2 linked regions of the Homo sapiens genome follow. The protein of the gene in region 1 interacts with the protein of each later gene in a pairwise test. Each region holds a gene or a part of one and is shown on either strand. Other genes may lie near its edges.

What was found. The genes of interacting proteins can lie anywhere in the genome.
Region 2: the proteins of PRH1 (region 1) and TMCO5A interact in a two-hybrid assay, tested with the Homo sapiens proteins (one large-scale study listed by BioGRID).

The regions. Positions count from the first base shown.
Region 1 is NC_000012.12:10,881,242-10,885,782, forward strand, and holds the start of PRH1 (salivary acidic proline-rich phosphoprotein 1/2 isoform a preproprotein), read right to left. Parts: upstream 3,015-4,541; 5' UTR 2,977-3,014; coding exon 2,913-2,976; intron 1,856-2,912; coding exon 1,820-1,855; intron 1,458-1,819; coding exon 994-1,457; 3' UTR 976-993; intron 1-975. UniProt on the Homo sapiens protein: PRP's act as highly potent inhibitors of crystal growth of calcium phosphates. They provide a protective and reparative environment for dental enamel which is important for the integrity of the teeth.
Region 2 is NC_000015.10:37,941,099-37,944,925, forward strand, and holds part of TMCO5A (transmembrane and coiled-coil domain-containing protein 5A), read left to right. Parts: intron 1-50; coding exon 51-107; intron 108-572; coding exon 573-632; intron 633-1,092; coding exon 1,093-1,157; exon of another isoform or gene 1,158-1,189; intron 1,190-2,242; coding exon 2,243-2,300; intron 2,301-3,827.

The sequences.
Region 1 (4,541 bases):
AATGTGATTTAAAGTGTTGCTTAGATGAGAAAGAGAAACAATTATTGTTATGTGTTCATGCTTTGCTGCTGTTGGTTATGTAAGGGCTATTTTTACAAAGATGGGCACTGCAACATATCATATAATAGTGAGAATGTGAATCCAGCCTTAATATCCAGTGACAGGGATTGGTTAAATAGATTACGGAACAACCAAACAATAGAATAGTATACAATTGTAAAAACAAACTAACCAATAAACACTGAAGAGATCTAAATGAACTCATGAGAAAGTTTTCTAAACAATAAATTTTTCCAGTGAGTAAGACACAAATCTGAATATACAGTATGGTATAAGTGCTTGTAATAAAAGCATTATATATATTTATGTAGCAATATATATTTCAAAAAGTAGATTCCAAAGAGTAAAAGGTGGGGGTTTTGAGAAGGATAGAAGGGAGGAAAGATGAGTTAGGCTCTTACTATTTAGCTCTGTACATTTCGGTTCAGTGAGATTAGTTTTTGTTAGCTTAAGCATGTATGACTTTAAATGTAAGTATACTAAAAATGAGATACCATTTTACAACTGAAAGTTCAAGGACCACTTAGCAGGAATACTGGACCTGAAAGCCTGATGTGAGGCAGGACTGAGCAAAGCATGTTCAGGTGAAAACTTTAAATGGGAGTCTGAGTTTGAGGAAAGAAAATAGAGAGAGCCAAAGGGGGAACATGGTTCTATGTCCTCATTGTCAACCCTACTTAAGACATGTAATTTGAAGATAGTGATTCTCAAAATCAGAATTGCCTTCAAGAGCTTCTGTAAAACACAGGGTCACAGGGTCTTGATACTCTATACAAGAATATCTGAATAACAATTTTTAGAAATGTGTTCCAGGACAGGGCAATATTAACAGGTTTTCAGAGGATTCATTGGCACAATGAAGTTGGAGAACTGTAGCAGTTGGAGCCTTTGATGGATAATAAACTGGAATCGTACCTGTCATTGAATCCTAGATTACTGAGGAGACTGCCCCTGTGGAGGTCCTTGTGGGCGGCCCCCTTGGGGAGGTGGTCCCTGGGGCTTTCCAGGAGGAGGTGGGGGAGGACCTTGCTGATGGCCTCCCTGTTGGGGTGGTCCTTGTGGCCTTCCTCGAGGAGGACGGGGATGGCCTCCCTGTTGGGGTGGTCCTTGTGGCCTTCCTTGAGGAGGAGGGGGATGGCCTCCCTGTTGGGGTGGTCCTTGTGGCTTTCCCTGAGGAGGTGGTGGACCTTGTTGCTGCTGGCCTCCTTGTTGGGGTGGTCCTTGTGGCTTTCCCTGAGGAGGTGGTGGACCTTGTTGCTGCTGGCCTCCTTGTTGGGGTGGTCCCTGCTGAGGGCCATCATCCTGGTTCCCATCACCAGCAGAGGGTTGAGATTGCTGTCCTCCCAAAGGTGGTCCCTGACGCTCCTCATCTAGGAACTGCTCAGAGTCTCCTCCATCTGTGTGAGTTGAAACAAGAAGAGCTGAGCTCATGCTGGAAAACCCTCCTGTCTTCATACCTCTCTGTCTTCACCACACGGCCGGCCCCTCTCTGCCTGACCTGCCTCTCAACTCCCAACCTCCCCCCTTCCCAAGGCTTCCTAATTAGAACTCCTCTTAATCCACATAAGGGTGATGAAAAATTGAATTTCTTTACTCATGGTCCCCAGAATCAAGGTTGGGAGAAAACTGTTTGTATCTTTGGGGCATTGGTATTAGCCAATTCCTGACAAGAAAATGGTGATAAGAAGACACTGGAGAACTCATCAATTTTTCAGGGAAAAATGGAGACAGAGTTTACTGAGAATTTATTGGGATTTACCTGATATTACGAGGGGAACATCTTCCTGGCTGACATCTAGAAAAGAAGTACAGGATGATGGGAAAAGTTACTTCCTGAATCATTCAAGGCTCATAGTGTTCTACGAGGATAAAGGACCTCTGATCACACCCTGTGCATCCCCTTTGTGATCTCATCAGCCACTCTCTGATGCTACTGGAAGTGGAAGAAGATGTAAGGGAAAGCAGTATTGTTACTACACTGAGCGTCAACCAGGAACTCAACATAGAAGGGCCCCTGTTTGTCCTCTTTTGATTCCCCAAGCCTTGATGAGGAATGAAGATACAATAGGTCTTCTGATCCTCGGCATGAAAATTCTGCAGTCCCATCTGTTTTCTCATCCTCCTCTCTTCCCTCCACTTTCCTCCTCTATAGCATTTGCCTGTAAACCCTTAGCGCTTATTTAGTTAAACTGCTCTGAGTATTTCAATGACATATTTGGGGATTCTTCTGCCCTCTTTCATCTGTAAATATGTTGTTTATGTTTGCAAGCCTTCTCAACAGGAGCCACCAGACATAGCCACTTGGATATAATCTTACGCATGCCATTCCCAGCACATTGAAATACTACATTCAGGAGACAGAAAAATGACAATGTTTCACTCTGGTTATTCTCTAACTCTATGTAGACAGAGACAAGTGTTTACCCAATTCTCTGCCTCGGCAGTAGCTCTGACATGTGTTTATCTCCTTCATTAATGCTCATCCACTGTACAGCAAGGCCACCATCATCCCTGTCTACTGGGATCAGTACAGGATCTTCACAGCTGTACTTCCCTGAATCTGTCTTGCATTCTCCACATCCTTCACAGCAGTCCCATGTCTCTATATAATGCAAATCTCACTCTCTCACACCCCTAGTACGAATTCTTTATTGGATTCTATTTGTGCAACAAATAAACTATGAGGCCTTGATGAGGAATGGAGGTACAATAGATCTTCTGATCCTCAGCATGAGAACTCTGCAGTCCCATCTGTTTTCTCATCCTCCTCTCTTCCCTCCACTTTCCTCCTCTATAGCATTTGCCTGTAAACCCCAATCAGAGTCACAATATCTTCCCCCAATTCATCTTACCTTCATTTAAATCCTGAGCTGAGCTGAAGGCCAGCAGGGCCACTGACAGCAGAATCAGAAGCATCTTGCAGGAGGCTCTGGTGTCACTCCCAACTTTGTGCTGGGAGAAACGTGTCAGCTCCCTTTATAAAGACAAGCAGGACAATGGTGCATTTGAGCTCCCTACCAGGTGGGCCTCCTCGCCTCAGAGACTGGCTTCTGCTTTGCTTACTTCAGGTCAAGTGTATCCCTCATTTCTTTTGGGACTCTAGCTCAGCAGGAAGGGTTGGGTAGGATATTGTTTGTGTCTAATTCCTAAAAGGCACAACTATGACTTGGACAAATGTTTTGACGGAACTGTGTCCAAGCAGTCGGCACAGTGTCAGGATTGAACTTTAGACATCTTTTGGTTTTCAATCTGTTTGGAAAGACTGCTATTCTGCTTTTCACTGTGCTTTTCATTTCTGTGTATGTGAGTTTGTGTGGGTGTGTCGGGGGGTGGACACTGATCCTACAGCTAACAGTGAAGATGGTCAATATCTCTGACTGTTTTGATAGCCTCTTTCCATCTCTCATGATGTGTGTGCGTGGATATTTTCACATTTAGCTAAATTTTTCATGTAACAGAGATGGTCTTGCTTATCTGTGAGATGTGTGAGGACAGCACACTCCCAGGCACACATATATGAGAGAAAGGTGCTGGCAGCCTGCTCAGGCTACAAGAATTGTCCAAACTTCTGTGAATCTCACTACACTCAGGCAAGCCTTGGTGCTATACAACACAGGCAAGCTAAAATATTTGTATTTTAAAAATATCTTTAGGGTTTATTAAAGCAAAACTGAACTCAGAAACCACCAAGGAATTTCTAGACCTGAACAAACTGAATATATGGTTCCCTAAGTGAGCCACACGATGTCATATAGCTAAGACCTCCACTTTCTCCAGAATATTCCATAGAATTCATCCTCTACTTTATTTCTTCTAATAAATATTGTAATTGTCATCACTGATAATTAAATGGCCACAATTATACATTCATCTAAGATAATTTGTAATACCTGTCCAAGCCTCAATTGCCTTGATTGGTCTTCTGCTTTTACTCAGTAATTATGTCACCTGTTTCATCAGAGTGTTCTTTCTCACCAAGGATTTTTATCTGTAATATTCCAATACTCATTCTTTCTCATTCTTTTTCTCGCACTTATTTGTTGAAATTTTGTATTCTGAGTCTACCTTGCCATGTTTACTTTTCGTCCTATATCTTTTTTTTTCTCCCTACAAAGGTGTCCTTTATTTATCCTTCTAAGTAAAGGTGTGTGGTACTCCTCACTACCTTTACTTTCATTTTTGTCTGTATAATTTGACAATAAAAAATTAAGTTTCCAAAAAGCCCTGTCAGGGTCCTGGTTTGGTAGCTCTCTCCTCAGCTGCTGATTGCTCCAAAAATTAAGTTTCCAAAAAGCCCTGTCAGAGTCCTGGTTTTGTCGCTCTCTCCTCAGCTGCTGATTGCTCTGTGATACCTAGAAATTCCCTGCTCATCAATTCATAAAATATACTACTCAGAATCACCAGCTGCACTTTCCATTTCAGACCTTGAGTAGGTCTTGTGTAATTTTTCACTTTTTGTGCATGGTTAGTCTTTATTTGAG
Region 2 (3,827 bases), on another chromosome or scaffold:
CTGCACAGCTTTTACCTTGCCAAGTTAGCAGTCTCTTTTGCTTTCTTTAGGTTAAGTTACAACAGCTGGAAGCTTCCTATGCATGCCAAGAGAAGGAGCTGCTCAAGGTAACAGCAGGAACTTCAATGTGACTTCTCCCCAAAAAGGGAAATGTGATCTTTGGTCAGGCAATCTATTTCTCAAGTGATTGATTTACATTAAGGTTCCAGATCCAAGACCATGATGGGGCTAGGGAGGGGTAAAGAAAAGGAAGATAAGCACAATCCCTGAGGTTGCTTTCTCTTCAAACATTTTTTTACAGAATACACTCTACAGTTTGTATCTCGCAAATATTAGTTATCTATCTATTCCTCTCCCAACTGCCCCCAAATTCCACCTTTGACCAATAACTCCCATTTAGCTTTTTTACCCTAAAAAAAGGAAATACATTTATCTGTACAGCAAAAAAGAAAACATATTTAGAACAATTAGAAAACCACATTTAGGACCTGGGACCCAAGAGAAAACAAGTATGCTTGTGTTCTTATAGCAATTTACCGAAATATATTTACAACTAAATTTTGATTTCCTAGGTAATGAAGGAGTATGCATTTGTGACCCAGCTCTGTGAAGATCAAGCCCTCTACATAAAGGTAGAGCTTCTTGGTAAAGGGATAGCAAAGGGTTTATTAAGGTACAGGATGAAATAGAACAAGGATTTTCAAAGACTACTGTCCAGAGCAATTTCAACAGTTCAAGGTGGCACTACTAGGATACTTTAAGGTCATCAGCACCCCACCTCACTATCAATATCACTCTATTTGTCTTTGTCTCCCTGGGAATTCCTGCCCTGCTCTCCCACTCTCTGTGCTGTTAAGTTAATAATTCACACTTCTGCTATTTATAATGTCAATGATGCCCAGAAACCTGTCCAGTGGTAAGGCATAGTGAGAGATCAAGAGTAGTAGGGGGGTGAGTTTTATGAAAGCAGAGAAAGTGGCAGTGGGAATACCAAGCATTCATGGTATCATGTAATAACAAGTGCTTATTATGCTTAGAAAAATTGTAAACCTTCTAAGTAGTAACTGTGGCTTTCTTTGTTTCTCTTTGAAGAAGTACCAGGAAACGTTGAAGAAAATAGAAGAAGAACTAGAGGCTCTGTTCCTTGAGAGAGAAGTGTGAGCTTTGGCAAAGGAACATCCTGGTTTTGGTAGAAACTCCATCTCAGCCTGAGTCAGAGCAAACAGTTCTCAGACCAATTTCTATTTGGAATTGAATGAGTCCCGACGCCACATATCTTTGCCCTCTGTTAGTGATCTGGTTGACCCCAGTAGATCACACCAACTTAAAACTTCCAGTCATTCTCCCATCCTTCTAAAAAGACCACAGAAACACATCTCCCTTCGTAATGTTATCACATTATCACATTATTATTCGGGTTGATATTAAGAGTAAAAACATGTACTTTAGAAAGAGTTGGTGGTCAGTCACCTTGATAAGTAGGGTATTCCTTATATATCACAGAAAGGCCTTTTCATTAATACCATCCTCACTTCCCCCAAATATATGGACACCCAACCATAAGGGATAGGCATGAAACTAATCTCTAGACTCATACTACAGCTACCACATTATATAAATCAGAACTGTACACTGTATTGAACTACGAACATTTAAAATTAGAGATGGGAAAGCACTCCTCAAAGTACAATGAGTTTGTCAAGAGTCTAAATGGTGAGAAATCCAAACCAAAAACCTCATCTCCATTTCTTGACCCCCTCTGTAAGTTAAATCTTAATGCAGTCAAGAAGTATTTCTATTTATGAAATATTTTTAAATCCTTAGATCAAGAACAAGAGATCAAAACTGCATATAGCCTCTCTCTATATATATATAGTCCAGGGTCCTAGGACTTGTAGGTCCTTGCCCCTAAAGGACACCTTCAAGTCACTCAAGATCCCTGCTGAACATTGGTTTATGGCTTAACTGTTAAGCCAAGATTCTAGAAAAGGTTGCCCAGTAGAATTTTCTGTGCTAGTTAGTAGGTAAAACTAACTACATATGGCAATTGAGTACATAAAAGATGTACTCAACTGAGGAAATTAATTTAACTTTAATTAATTTAAATAGCTATAGGTAGACAGTAGTTACAATATTGGACAGTACAGATTTAGAATATAAAGCTTTTTTAAAATAACCATAGTGTAGTATGAATATTTCAGTGCACTTTGTTCAATTTCTGTCCTGGCTGTTATCTTCATAGATCAAAACTCGTGAGCATGAACCCTGTGGAAAAAGAGCATACCAGCCAAAATAATGAGGTAAACACTCCATTCTCTCTTCAGCTCCTCACAGTGTCATTGCCTTTCAAAGCCATCTCCAGCAAACTATAAGGCACCAAATATATACCCAATCTTGCCATGCGCATTTTCCAAGAACAGTACCAGCTATAATTACAGAGCATTCCAACCCTAAACAAACAAACTAGACTCTAAGGAACAATCTACTTTCTTCTCATTCAGCCATACAAATAACAGGCTCTCAAAAAACTAGCCGAAGACCTAAGAGAACTCAGAATGGAGGCAAGAAGCAACCTTAATTGAGGGTATGCTCTATAGAAAGAGGCCAATATAGGGCACATACACCACCTCTTCCATCTCCTACAATCACAGTACTCTTTCCTGATGATCTTGACATGGTTCCTAATCTCTCACAACACAGAGCACCCACCATCTGTCATCATCTAGTCAGAATTGGCCTGTGAGTTAAAACATAGAACGCTATTGCTTCTTTGTGACAGAGTTTCAGTGTCTGTTCATATTTAATATAGCAAAGCCACCAGCACACATGTAAAGGTCTGAAGGAAAAGAACAATTTCATACAGAGCACCAATCCTCTTGGCCTGCTTGATGTCTTGTGGCAGCAAGGATAAAAGGTTAAAGTTAAACTTTGGTTGGGCTTTAATTTTGTAATTTATATTGGCTTTAGAGTCCAGGTTGACAAACATCAGAAATTACAGATAGTCAAGATAAATACTTAGAAAAGAGAACTAAACACTTCCTTAAAAGCAAATATCAAATATTGGCCATTGTGTTTGGGTCATCCAAATGTTTGGATATATGTTAGGCCATGTCCATGGTTCTTAAGAGTACTGAACAAGTCATTCTGGCCCCGAAGCTTGCATATTCTGCTTAGTAAACAAAATCCCTGAAATTAACTCGACCCACTTCTGTAGAACCAAGTTTTTGACATCTCCAATGTGTCCTACCATCTCTCCCCACAGCTCATCAAAATATTCCTTCTAACTATGTGTCAGAGGAAAAAATTAAAGTTGTCTACATCAAGCTCATCAGGGTCCCATGATGGTTCAATGACCTAGTGATGTCTGAGCAACTTTGGAGACAGGATGCCTGAGAACTGACTGTTTGGCAGGCCATGTAATCTTACTCAAACTATAGATCAAAATTTGTAATCCTAAAAGTTTCTTTCTAATTCAAATTCTGTAAGCCTCTTTTCCACAGCTCTAATTTTTTTTAGTAGAAAGATGAAGTCTCACTATGTTGTTCAGGCTGGTCTTTAACTCCTGGGCTCAAGGGTTCCTCCCACCTCAACCTCCCAAGTAGCTAGGACTACAGGCACCCACCACCATGCCTGGCTGGCTCTAAAATGTGATCATAATTCCTCTTTTTATCTCACAAGGAAGGTTAAAGGACAATGAAATAACTGAGAAAATATTTTGAAACCAGAATGCCACAGAAATACAGGACATAGCCTCATCTTTAGATTTTTTTTTCTTCAACTTTTAAGTTCAGGGGTACATGTGCAGGATGTGCAGGTTTGTTACATAG